Homo sapiens: one gene and its partner. The protein of the gene in region 1 purifies or fractionates together with the protein of each later gene. This does not show direct contact. Each region holds a gene or a part of one and is shown on either strand. Other genes may lie near its edges.

Region 1 (8,081 bases):
AGTAGGTGCTGGGCCAGGAGTGAGGACATCAAGGCCCGGTGTGCCCAGCAGGGTGGCCCTCACCTGGCTGCAGGGCCAAGGGGACAACAGAGCCTAGGCAGGGGCTTGGCACGGGGACAAGGGGGAGGGTGGAGTACCTGGGAATCACTGGAGACAGGGATGCCAACAGGAGTGGCAGCGGTCAGGGCCTGGCACTGAGGTGGGGGCTCCTCCGATGCCTGCAGGGAGGGCTGCAGGCACTGCTGGCCTGTGAAAGGCGTGGTCCTCAGCCGCGGGGTGGCCCCAGGGCTCCATTTCCCAGTTTTCAGGGCTCCAGTCCAGCAGGGCGAGGAGCCACCTCTCCCCCAGCTGCACACACGCAGGCCTGTGCCAGCTCACACCACCAGCATCAGCGTTGCAGGGCATCCAGCCTGGAGCACGTGCCGGTCACCATGGCAGCAGACAGCGTGCCAGCAGGAGCCCAGGCTGGGCTCAAGCATCCAGGATCAGTGGTCTAGGCATGGGGGGCTTGGGGTCCTTCCCCTTGGAGCACCAGACGGGCCAACTCGGGGAGGGGAAGGGGGACCCTGGAGCACCAGGACAGCCCGTCCACCAGCACCTCAGAAAGGGAACGATTTCCTAAGGGCTCTCGGGAAACCTGAGGGTGGACACCAGGTGCCGGTGGGGGCGCATGGCTTCCTGGTCCTGCCCAGCTGGCCCCGCACTGAGAGGGATGGAGGCCGAGGCTCAGGCCTCGGGAGGCTGCCAGGGGATTCTGATGGCTGAGGCATTCCTTGCCCTCTGGGCTCAGGTGAGGCCAGGAAGTCTGTCACAGCTGGCTGCTCCCTGGACCAGGGGGCTGGGGGTACTGCTACCCCAAACAGCCTCTCACTGCCCACCGGGACAAGGCACCCCCTCCCAGGTGCAGACCTCAGCTTGGGCCTCAGGCACACACTGGGCAGGGGCTTCCACCAGCCTCAGAGGTGGGCGAGGGTGGGGCGTGGAGCCCTCAGTGTGGCAGCGCCTTTGAATGTCGCCACAGTGCAGCCTGCACAGGTCAGGGTGGCAGGCACGTGTGTATCCCATGTGAGTGGTTGGTTGGCACCTCCGGAGGTGTGGCCACAGGGCTTGGTGAGGGTCAGTGGGAGGGGTGCTTCCTGTTGCCTGAGAACACTGCAGGGGGCTAGAGTGCCCCAGCCCACCATATGCTCTTGTGAGTTGTGTATGTCTGGAGTATGAGTGGGACCCTGGAAATAGCCTCCCTTGGGCAGTGTACAACCTGGGCTCCCTGCTGGGCAGCCCTGAGTAGGCTCTCAGGCTGGGATCCAGGATGACAGTCCCAGGGTCCAGAGTTGGCCCAGCAGGCGACTCTTCTGGCAACCTTTGCCCACCCTCATCCATGAGCACCTTCACACACACACACACACACACACACACCACACTCACACACATGCACAACGCTGCACCCATGGGCAGAGGCTCAGCCCATCATACAAGAACCCGGCCCTGTGCTGGGGTCCCAGCTGCTCAGGAGGCCAAGGTGGGAGGATCGCCGGAGCCCAGGAGTTCGGGGCTGCCACTGGCCAAGATAGCGCCACTGCAGTTCAGCCTGGGTGACAGAGCAAAACCCTGTCTCTAAGATAAATAAAAAGAACCAGACGGCCAGGCACGGTGGCTCACGCCTGTAATCCCAGCACTTTGGGAGGCCGAGGCAGGTGGATCACCTGAGGTCAGGTGTTTGAGACCATGCTGGCCAACATGGTGAAACCTCATCTCTACTAAAAATACAAAAACTAGCGGGGCGTGGTGGTGGGCGCCTGTAGTCCCAGCTACTTGGGAGGCTGAGGCAGGAGAATCGCCTGAACCTGGGAGGTGGAGGTTGCAGTGAGCTGAGATCACGCCACTGCACCCCAGCCTGGGCGACAGAGCAAGACTCTGTCTCAAAAAAAAAAAAAAAGGCTGTGCCTGGTGGTTCACGGCTGTAATCCCAGCACTTTGAGAGGCTGAGGAGGCCAGATCACAAGGTCAGGAGTTCGAGACCAGTCTGACCAACATAATGAAGCCCCGTGTCTACTAAAAAATACAAAAAAAATTAGCTGGGTATGGTGGCAGGCGCCTGTAATCCCAGCAACTCGGGAGGCCGAGGCAGGAGAATCACATGAACCTGGGAGGCAGAGGTTGCAGTGAGCCAAGATTGTGCCATTGCACTCCAGCCTGGGTGACAGTGTGAGACTCTGTCTGAAAAAAATAAAATAATTAATAATAACCAGACTCCCGACATCCAACAATCTCAGGCACTTATTAAGTACCTGCTGTGTGCCAGAAATTTTGCTGAGAATCCAGAGGAAGCGATCCTAGCAGGTGGCTGGGCAACAGCCTGGGGTCCTGAGGTGGAGGCAGGAGGGGCTGGAATCCCTGTAAACGGCCTCCCTCCAAGGAAGCCTGGCCCAGGCGCCCACCCTTCAGTCACCCTCCCCTGTTTAGCTCACACAGCTGGGTCAGTGCCAGGCAGCCCCACCCAACGTGGAGCTGTGGGGCCCTAGAACTGAGGAGCCGCCATCATTTCTGGCTCTGCCACCAAGAGGCTGCCCAGAGCCAGGCCCACTTAGTGCCGGGCGGCCAGGCTTCCCCCTGCTGAGCACCCGATGCCTAAGCGCCCTGCCAGCCCAGACAGCGCTAATGAGGCCGTCGTGCCAATCAGAGGGGCAGGCCGCCTGGGCTCCTCCTCAGCCTGGCTGGGCGTTGGGGTGTGGAGGTGAAGCCAGTGTCTGTGCCTGGGGTGGGGGGGACCATGGGCACAGCTGCCCCTCCGGCTTCCCCCACCGCTCACGGACCAACCGAGCTGTACCCTCAAAATCCAACGGGAGGCCGGGCGCAGTGGCCACGCCTATCATCCCAGCACTTTCAGAGGCCGCGGCGGGCAGATCACTTGAGGTCAGGAGTTCGAGACCAGCCTGGGCAACATGGTGAAACCCCATCTCTACTAAAAATACAAACATTAGCCGGGCACGGTAGCAAGTGCCTGTAATCCCAGCTACTTGGGAGGCTGAGGCAGGAGGACTGCTTGAGCTCGAAGGTTCCAGTGAGCCAAGATTGCGCCACTGGACTCCAGTTTGGGTGAGGAGCGAGACCCTATTTCAAGAAAAAAGTTTTTTAAAAAGAAGAGCCAATGGGAAAGTGAGGTGCAGGCAGCACCCTAGCTTGTATCCCTAAACCAGAGACAGTTCCCTGGCATCGGTGCTAGGCCTGTGTCCTCAGTCCCCTGGAAACTGTGGGAGAGTGTGTGTGGGCATCGTCTCTGGGAAGGGGGTGAAACCCCAGACTGCGTCTCCCCAGGATGGTGCCTGGCACGTGACCTGGTTTCGCACACAGTTGGTGCCTCATAAATGCGTGTGAATCATAGAGGCGGATGAGGCCAGCACACAGGGAGAGGCGAGAGCAGGCCCTGGCGTCGTGGCGTACGCTGTGCCCTGGGGGGTATTTGCATGTGGGAGTCTCTCTGCCCCCACCCTGGCCCCTGAGCGTGGGGACAGTGGGGACAGGTCTCCTCTTTTTCCTCCCCTGTGTCTGCAGGTGCCTGGCACGGTTGCTGTCCAGGGCTTAGAGGACAGAGGAAGAGCCCCTGAGTCTGTGCACACTCTGCCACCATGGCCCTGCCCACCTCTGGAGCCCACAGGTGCCCAGCCCAGGCCCCTTGCTTTTGGCTAGACTCCTGCCCTACGGGGACCCCCATGATGGCCACTCAGGAGATGGGCCCAGGAGGACAGGGGAGTGACTCCAGGCCATGACCGGAAGGGGCCTGTGGCCCCTGTTCCCAGTCCCCAGGGAGACGGGAGGGTCACACGCTGTTATGAGGAAGAGGACACCGGGCTGGCCCTGGCCCAGGGTGGCCAGCTCTGGTTTCACTACTTGGCCCCAAGCCCCTGAGGCAGGTGCAGGAGCCAGGCACGGTGAGCAGGGCCCAGTGCCCCTCAGGCTCTGGGGAAGGGGTACAGCCAGGTGGCCCAGAGCAAGGAGGTGCTGTAGACAGGTGTGACCACTTCCAGTCTCTCCCGGCCTGCTGGCCTTCATCCTCTCCCAGATTCCAAGGGCCACCGCTGGGAGCATGGGGTGGACATCGTCCCACCAGCCTCCTGGATCCACATCCGTAAAGACTCCAAAGTGAAGTGAGGCTGGCTTCACTCCAGCTCACAGCAGAGGAGGGGGCAGCCTCAGGGCCCAGCAACTTGCTCAGAGCGCACAGGAGTGCGCTGGGGCCGGGCCAGCCTGGCCCAGGGCCTCTGACTCTGCCCCCTGCCTGCAGGGCTGCACGGCCACTGTGTTCCACCCTCCAGCGTGGGTGGCAGTCCAGTGCGTCATTCTGGGGCCTGAGCAGTGTGGCCAGAGGCCGGTCTGGGGTGGAGGCGACCTGGGCTGCAGGTTGTGGCTGGGGTCCTTGCTATGCTTCTGGCAGCAGGAATCAGAGAAGCAGTAACTGGATCCAGCTGAGGGCCTGGCGGCCACCGAGGGTACGGGCGGCGATCAGGTTGCGGCCGAGCCGTGAGCGTTCCACTGGACGGCTTCTACATCCGGAAGGGCTGGGCCGGGCCGGGCCGGGAGCCCACACGGGGTTGGAGGAGGGGGGCAGGAACGAGAGAGGCCAAAAGGTGCAGGGCCGTGAAGAGGGGCGCTGGGCCCACGCTATGAGGAAAAGGGGATCAACCCTGCCCTCCAGCCCCGTAGGCCCTCAGGCCCTCGGGCTCTGGGCTCTGTGCAATCCGGGAGTGGCTGAAATCCAAGCTGAGGGTAATGAAAGGTGCTGCTCCTAAGCCGCACGTCTCTGATCCGCCCTCCCCGCCCGCCCTCTGCTGCCCGCGGGCCCTCTAAGAGCTGCCCAGGCTGCTGCCGCGGGTCAGAGGCGGGTCAGAGCAGGCAGGGGGTTCGTGACGCCGGCTGGGTCTGGGGGCTGTGGGCCAGCCGAGCCGACCCGGGCTTCTGGGGGACCGCGGGGGCCGTGAGCACTCAGAGGGCGCATCCCAGGCCCCTCCGGGGACCCGGCCAGCCTGAAGATGCCGACGAACGGCCTGCACCAGGTGCTGAAGATCCAGTTTGGCCTCGTCAACGACACTGACCGCTACCTGACAGCTGAGAGCTTCGGCTTCAAGGTCAATGCCTCGGCACCCAGCCTCAAGAGGAAGCAGACCTGGGTGCTGGAACCCGACCCAGGACAAGGCACGGCTGTGCTGCTCCGCAGCAGCCACCTGGGCCGCTACCTGTCGGCAGAAGAGGACGGGCGCGTGGCCTGTGAGGCAGAGCAGCCGGGCCGTGACTGCCGCTTCCTGGTCCTGCCGCAGCCAGATGGGCGCTGGGTGCTGCGGTCCGAGCCGCACGGCCGCTTCTTCGGAGGCACCGAGGACCAGCTGTCCTGCTTCGCCACAGCCGTTTCCCCGGCCGAGCTGTGGACCGTGCACCTGGCCATCCACCCGCAGGCCCACCTGCTGAGCGTGAGCCGGCGGCGCTACGTGCACCTGTGCCCGCGGGAGGACGAGATGGCCGCAGACGGAGACAAGCCCTGGGGCGTGGACGCCCTCCTCACCCTCATCTTCCGGAGCCGACGGTACTGCCTCAAGTCCTGTGACAGCCGCTACCTGCGCAGCGACGGCCGTCTGGTCTGGGAGCCTGAGCCCCGTGCCTGCTACACGCTGGAGTTCAAGGCGGGCAAGCTGGCCTTCAAGGACTGCGACGGCCACTACCTGGCACCCGTGGGGCCCGCAGGCACCCTCAAGGCCGGCCGAAACACGCGACCTGGCAAGGATGAGCTCTTTGATCTGGAGGAGAGTCACCCACAGGTGGTGCTGGTGGCTGCCAACCACCGCTACGTCTCTGTGCGGCAAGGTAGGGAGGGCACAGGTGGCGACCTCCTGAGGGGTGCTGGGACCCCCCTGCTTCAGGGAGGAGGCCGTGGGGGTCTCACGGGGAGTGGTATCGTGTCTGTGCGTTCACATGTCTGTTCTGGGCTGGGGGTCCATGTGGGACATGTGTGGCCACTCAGGGTGTAGGTGGGTGGGCCTCGGGCCATGCCCAGGCGACCCCCACTGAGGGGTGGTGGCTTCAGGGTCAGAGGCAAGGGTTCCTGGCCTTTCTCAGCATAGCTGGAGAATGTCTCAGCCAAGCCCTGGGCAGCTGCGGAGTCTGAGACTGGAGAGGTGTGGGCCAGGCGATGGGCAGTGCCCAGCAGGGGCAGGAGGCCCACAGCCTGGCCTGGTGCCATGAGGGGCATGTGGGCAGGAGGCTGTGGGGGGTCCATATCTCCCCTTCTTTTTCTCCACCCCATTTTCTGGACTTCATTTATTTATTTATTTTTTGAGACAGAGTCTCGCTCTGTCACCCAGGCTGGAGCGCAGTGGCGTGATCTCGGCTCACTGCAAGCGCCGCCTCACGGGTTCACGCCATTCTCCTGCCTCAGCCTCCCGAGTAGCTGGGACTACAGGCGCCCGCCACCACGCCCGGCTAATTTTTTGTATTTTTTAGAAGAGACGGGGTTTCACTGTGTTAGCCAGGATGGTCTTGATCTCCTGACCTTGTGATCTGTCCACCTCGGCCTCCCAAAGTGCTGGGATTACAGGCGTGAGCCACCGTGCCCGGCTGCATTTTCTGGACTTTAAAGGAAATTGGGGAGGAGCCCAGGGTAGGGCAGGGAGCTGGGGATCGGGCGGGGATAGCACCACCACGTGCCTGACCAGTGGAGCCTCGTGTCCTCAGGAGTGGGGGGGCTTAAGGTCAGCTCCAGTGATGGAGGACACGGTGGGCAGGCAGCTTTACCCGGGGCCTGGGCTCCTGGTGGGGAGGCACCTCCCTGCCCCAGTGGGGCGTGGCCTGGCTCTCCCCAGTTCCCAGGTCACCAGTTGCCTGTCTGTGTGACTCCCTCCACCGCCTATGGGGTGAACCCCAGCAGTTCCTCCTTCCCCACAAGCTGAGCTCTGAGGGAAAAGCCCTGGCCCGGGCAGTCACTACCCACCTGGGCTCCTGGCTCCATGCACCCCAGAGTGGCTCGGAGGTGGTCTGAAAAGGCGAGGTGGGGAGAGCCGGGTGCATGGAGCTCCTCCTCCCAACTCAGGTCCTTCCAGACCAGCATCAGCTGGGCAAGGAGAGCTCCCCTGTCTCCTGGCAGCTCCCAGGTGCCCACCAAGCCCCCACCCTGACGGATGTCCAGGCCCCCTGGGTACACTGACACTCTGGGGCCAGATGGCAGAGGCCCCACCCTGTGCATGGAGAGGGGAGCCCAGCCATGGCTATGGGGTCCTGCACCTGCAGTTGGCATCCTCGGGCCTGTCCCAGCAGTGACAGGGTCCCAGGAGTGAGAATTCAACTGTGGATGCACGGCCATGGCCCTTCCTTCCTATCACAGCCCACAGTCCAGCTGTAATGCCTGCTGGCCTGGGCCCAGGCCGGGCATGTGGCAATCCTTAGGTGGTTAAAGGGGGTAAGTGGGACAGTGGCAGTGAGAATGCTTCCTCCATGGAAGCCAAAGACACTAGACCTTTAGGCATTTGTATATGGACAGCTTGGAAAGCAGACTCAAAGTGGCAGTCATGGCCGTGGCCGTGGCATTGTGGTGTGATGTGCATGGTGGCGTGGAAGTGGAGGTGAGGACGGTGGTGACAGTGTGGTGGCAGCAGCGACAATGATGGTGATGGTGATGATGGTGGTGATGGTGATGATGGTGGTGATGGTGGTGATGGTGGTGATGGTGGTGATGGTGATAATGGTGATGGTGGTGATGATGGTGATGGTGATGATGGTGGTGATGGCGGTGGTGATGGTGATGGTGGTGATGGTGATGGTGGTGGTGGTGATGATGGTGGTGGTGGTGATGGTGGTGGTGATGATGGTGATGGTGATGATGGTGGTGGTGATGGTGGTGATGGTGATGATGGTGATGGTGATGGTGGTGGTGATAGTGATGATGGAGATGGTGGTGATGGTGGTGGTGATGGTGATGATGGTGGTGGTGGTGATGGTGATGATGGTGATGGTGATGGTGGTGATGGTGATGGTGGTGATGGCGATGGTGGTGATGATGGTGATGGCGATGATGGTGATGATAGTGATGGTGATGATGG
Region 2 (4,778 bases), on another chromosome or scaffold:
CTGTAGTCCCACACCACTGACAGGGTGAAGCCGTGGGGGCCAACATCAACACCGTAAAGCTGTCAGGAGGCAAGCGAGACTTTTTATAGCTGCATTTTGAATTAGTTTATTATTTAATTATGCATTGTTATTTCAAACTGGCTTTAAATATCAGCGATGGAATAGGTTAAAGTCATAAAATATGGTTAAAATCTGTAGACAGGTAGACTATAAAAATTACAAAGGAAGAAACTAATTTAGTTATAAAGCACTACTATAAAAAGCTTTCTTTGTAAAAAGCCGTTTTCTTCCTGGTAGCTCTAGAGCACAAATTATACCATTGTTCTAGTTCAGAGGTCTAGTCAGAAGACTTTTTCTATCAGATAGGTGGTAAATTAGGTTTTGTGGGCCATAGAGTCTCTGTCACAATTACTCAGTGCTGCTGTTGTACCTTGAAAATAGCCATATATGATATGTACACACACAAAAGCATGGCTGTGTGCCAATAAAACTTTATTTGCCAAAACAGGTGGCAGGTTGGCTTTGAAGAGAGGGCCCTAGTTTGCTAATCTCTCTTCTGTACCAGCGCTGTCCAAAAGAAATATAATGTAAGCCACATATGTAATTTAAAACTGTTTAGTAGCTAAAGAAACAGGTAAAACTAATTTTAATATTTTATTTAAACCAAAATATCATTTCAACATGTAATCAATATAAAAAACTGTTAATACATTTCCATTCTTTTTGTACTAAGTCTTTGCAACTGCTATGTATTTTACACTTAGATATTATAGTGGCTGCCACACTGGACCATACGTTCTAGAGCTTCCATGCTCGGATTCTTTAATTTGGAGGTTAGTGACACAGTTTCAGATTGGGTTTTTCAAAGACAGGGGATATGATTATGTTGTCCCTGGGAAGCATGGGACGAAATATTTGGCCTTGGTCACTTTCAACTGAGGTGACCCAGGATTCTAGGGCACAAATGGATAACCAGACCCACGATACAGTCAGATGATGTTAGCTTCGTCAATGCAACAAATATGTCAATAGCTGTCTGTATAGACGACAGAGTGATCAAGGTGTGAACATATCACTGTAGTTTTTGGCCTTCACTAAGGAATGCTAATTCCTTCGTCAATAGCAGAACTAGTCTTTAGCACTTTGACTATATCAGAATTGAAAGCATATAAGCGTGTCACATTTGGAAGAGAAACTGAACTGGGTAGCAAGGAAAAAAGCTTCAAAATTAGACTTAATTTTTAAAATGATTTAAAAAGCTAAATGCTTATTCAGTTTATCTTCGTGTAACAGTCTAATGCTAGTCAGCAACAGATTAACAAGTTATCAAGAGTCATCATAACCTTCATTTAACTCTTGGGAAGCTTTTAATTATTTACAACTTTCTAAGCAATAAAGTCATCATTTCCAGGAAAAGAATGAACACAACCTGTGGTTAATAGAACTTGGAGCCAAGTTTTTTTTAACAAAAAATTTATTACCAAAATACAATATTAAAGTCAATACATGACAAACTCCTGTAAAGCAAAATAAATTATTCTAACATTGTACAGTATTTCCAAAGGTAGTTAAAGAAGCACTACAGACCTTGCCTCACTGTTCTGAACAGATGAACTGCTCTCCCATGAACACAGTCCTAGAGTTTCCGCTTTAAGGCATGCAGCTTGATGTGCAGGATAATTTTACAAAATGCAAATCATCCTATTTTAATAAGATACAGTGTCAGAATTAACTGTAGTCTTTACATGTCAGTATTCCAGAAATTTTTATACTTTGGCTATAGAAGCAATGCCATAGTGTTACACAATACTTATTTCTTAAAAAAATACATGTATTCATGTTCATGAATATCAAACGCAAATTTCTATTAAATATATTTTATCGAATATTACTTAGAGCACCTTGCTGTACAATTTAAAAAGATTAAATAAGTGTCTATGAAAACTAAAAACACAATAAGTCTCAACAGAGAAGCCTGCTTGTCTTTGTCAAGCCAATTACAGCACGGGAAGGTGCAATGTAAACATGGATGCCCACCATTTACTTTGTGAGAAAAAAAACAGAAAATTATGAAGCCACCAGCAGCCACCTTCAATAGGAAGAAAGATCCAGAACAAAGGCTTCGGTCGGTGTCACAACATTGCACTATCTGGCCAAAGAACTTGGACTACCGATCAAATGGAATATTAGCATGATACTGTTGAACACTGGGACACCCGCCATATTCTGGATGATTAGAGAAAGGGAGAAAATGATAGAGCCCTGAAAAGTATTCTTTATAATGATCAGAATGCATCATCTTCCCCCCTCCCCACCTTTGCCATATGTAGTTTCTTTTCAAAGCTATTTTCACTATCACGTCTTAGTATTTTTTAAGTGTTCGGAGCAGAAAACAAATACTATGAGCTCTGTCTAATAAGAAGTCAATACCAATAAATAACATGTTATTCTATGAAGGAATTCCTACTGAATTTTTTTTTTGGGGGGGGAGGTAAACAGAGGACCTCATCTGTCACCCCGGTTGGAGTGCAATGGTGCCATCACGGCTCACTGCAAGCCTCTATCTCCCAGGCTCAAGTGATCCTCCCACCTTAACCTCCCAAGTAGCTGGTGCTACAGGCACGTGCCAACTATGCCTGGCTAATTTTTAATTTCTTGTAGAGACAGGGTCTCCCCGTGTTGCCCAGGCTGGTCTTAAACTTCTGGACTCAAGCAGTCCTCCAGCCTTGGCCTTCTAAAGTATTGGGATTACAGGTGTGAGCCACTATGCCCAGGCTACTGATTATTTTAATAGCTATCTCTTCTACAGTTAGAATTGCATAATCTTCATTATTACTTTTAGAAAACTCAATTGTTCTTGGTAGACACATTGTTAACTTAAGGCTTGCCACAAAATGATAATGGGAAGGGAAAGAACCTCCTTGATATATGCTTCCTCCTATCGGCCAGGAGAAAGCTTTTAAGGACAATTCTAAGGCCAGAATCAGATGAAACTTTAAAGGCTTTGAACTTCTGGGTTAGTTTTTTCCCCATGAGGTGGGGAAATTTTAAATCCATGATTCCAGGTGGAAAATTTAAGTAACAATCAATGGAATTAGTTTAAAGAAATAAAGGTAATTTAAAAATTCACATCATTGAAATTTTGGGGATGCTTTTCATTATTATTTTCTAAATATGATATAAAACTAAAGCCAAGGAAATTTTCTAAGACAAAATCCTTCTAAGGTTGTTGATTTTCAGAACAACAGATTTTTATAAAGAAATACTGAGTCATTGTACCAGCAATGAAAAAACTGACTTACAATATGAGTGGCAACAGTATGGGTAATAATAATGAAATCATTTTAAATGTTCTATTTGAATTTGAAATTAAAATGTTTCAATTCCGAAAAAAGGAGAAAATGAATATAAGTCCACATACAGTGGATTTGAGGAATATAGTATATATAAATCCATTTCATATTTTTAAAAACCACGTATCAGAAATGGATTAACTTTCATAAATAAATTAAAGCTACCTAAATAAAAAAGCTGCAAAGTTACAATCATTTATGTTTGTTTAAATATCACCAAAATGAGATTAGAAAGAAAGAAAAAAAAATCAGAAAATGTTGCAAGATGCCTGGCCCCACTTAAATAATTCCTAATAATAATTTTATAAATATTAATCCAATCATACCTGGACTTTAGGAACAGAATACTTCTTAAAACGTGCCTACAGCGTATCCCATTCGAAAACCTTTACAGTGTTCCAAGTTGATCGGTCACAGCCTCATCCAGGTGTTAGAAATCAATATTCAGATATTCGGAAATAGCACCGTGAGGATGGTGCACAGAAGAGCGCACCGACCTTTTCACTTGTAGGCAGAATTTACTTAAACAAAACAATGCATAAATGAGTAATCAGAACTACAAAAACAAAAACACCCTGTTTTCTTCACTCCTTGAAATAATTAAAATACAAAATGTGTAATTAATAAGATTACATCTATTTGATGGTGAGTTTTAATGCTAAAGCACTTTGTGTTGGTTTTCCATATGTCCTATCGCACTCTAACAAAATAGAATTTCCAGATAGGAAGAATCCTATAGACTTGCCAAATGCTATTTGTTATTAAAATTTTTACAAACAACCTGAATTTCTGCTATATTTTAGTCACATTTGGTTATATTCCTCTTCTGCTAAATATAACTAAATTAATATACCCCAGGAAAGAAAAGCTCAACACAGCAGTACTCATTTTCAGGAGCTTTTAAATTTCACCCCTCATCCCCTAAGGGATTTTTGGAAATAGTTCAAACTATTTCCAATGCCGGATGATCAAATGTAAATTTTCATACATTGTTTCTTTCACACACTTTCAGATAACAAGTGTGGTTTCATTTAGCAGAGTATTAGAAGGTCTACGTACTATGGAGAAAGTATGCCAAGTTCTGACAGACACTGAAAAGAACCTCTGAGAACACGGAAGACGATTTAGCATTACTACGAATTGAGATCTGGTTTGAGTCTGGTGAGAATTCACCTGTTTCGTCCTCTGCTCACAAGAAATTCATCGTAAATTTAAGACAATACTTCTTGAATGCCTATTTACAATCTAGCTTTGAATTTAGAGATCTTTCCTTTCTTTTTTAAGGAGTAAAGGAACATGTCCTAGATTGAGTATGATTAATTTCTATCAATTTAGGTATTTCAGTAGATCATTTCAAAGCCCTCTAATTATGTTTCCTTGTTGACTCTGTTGGTGACACTGAAAAAACCCCCTCCCAGAACTGCC

Evidence for each region.
Region 2: the proteins of FSCN2 (region 1) and ZNF507 purify together in Homo sapiens (affinity purification with mass spectrometry; 2 studies listed by BioGRID and IntAct, with this or other methods). This does not show direct contact.

The regions. Positions count from the first base shown.
Region 1 is NC_000017.11:81,523,505-81,531,585, forward strand, and holds the start of FSCN2 (fascin-2), read left to right. Parts: upstream 1-4,872; 5' UTR 4,873-5,027; coding exon 5,028-5,853; intron 5,854-8,081. UniProt on the Homo sapiens protein: Acts as an actin bundling protein. May play a pivotal role in photoreceptor cell-specific events, such as disk morphogenesis.
Region 2 is NC_000019.10:32,383,531-32,388,308, reverse strand, and holds the end of ZNF507 (zinc finger protein 507), read right to left. Parts: 3' UTR 642-4,778; downstream 1-641. UniProt on the Homo sapiens protein: May be involved in transcriptional regulation.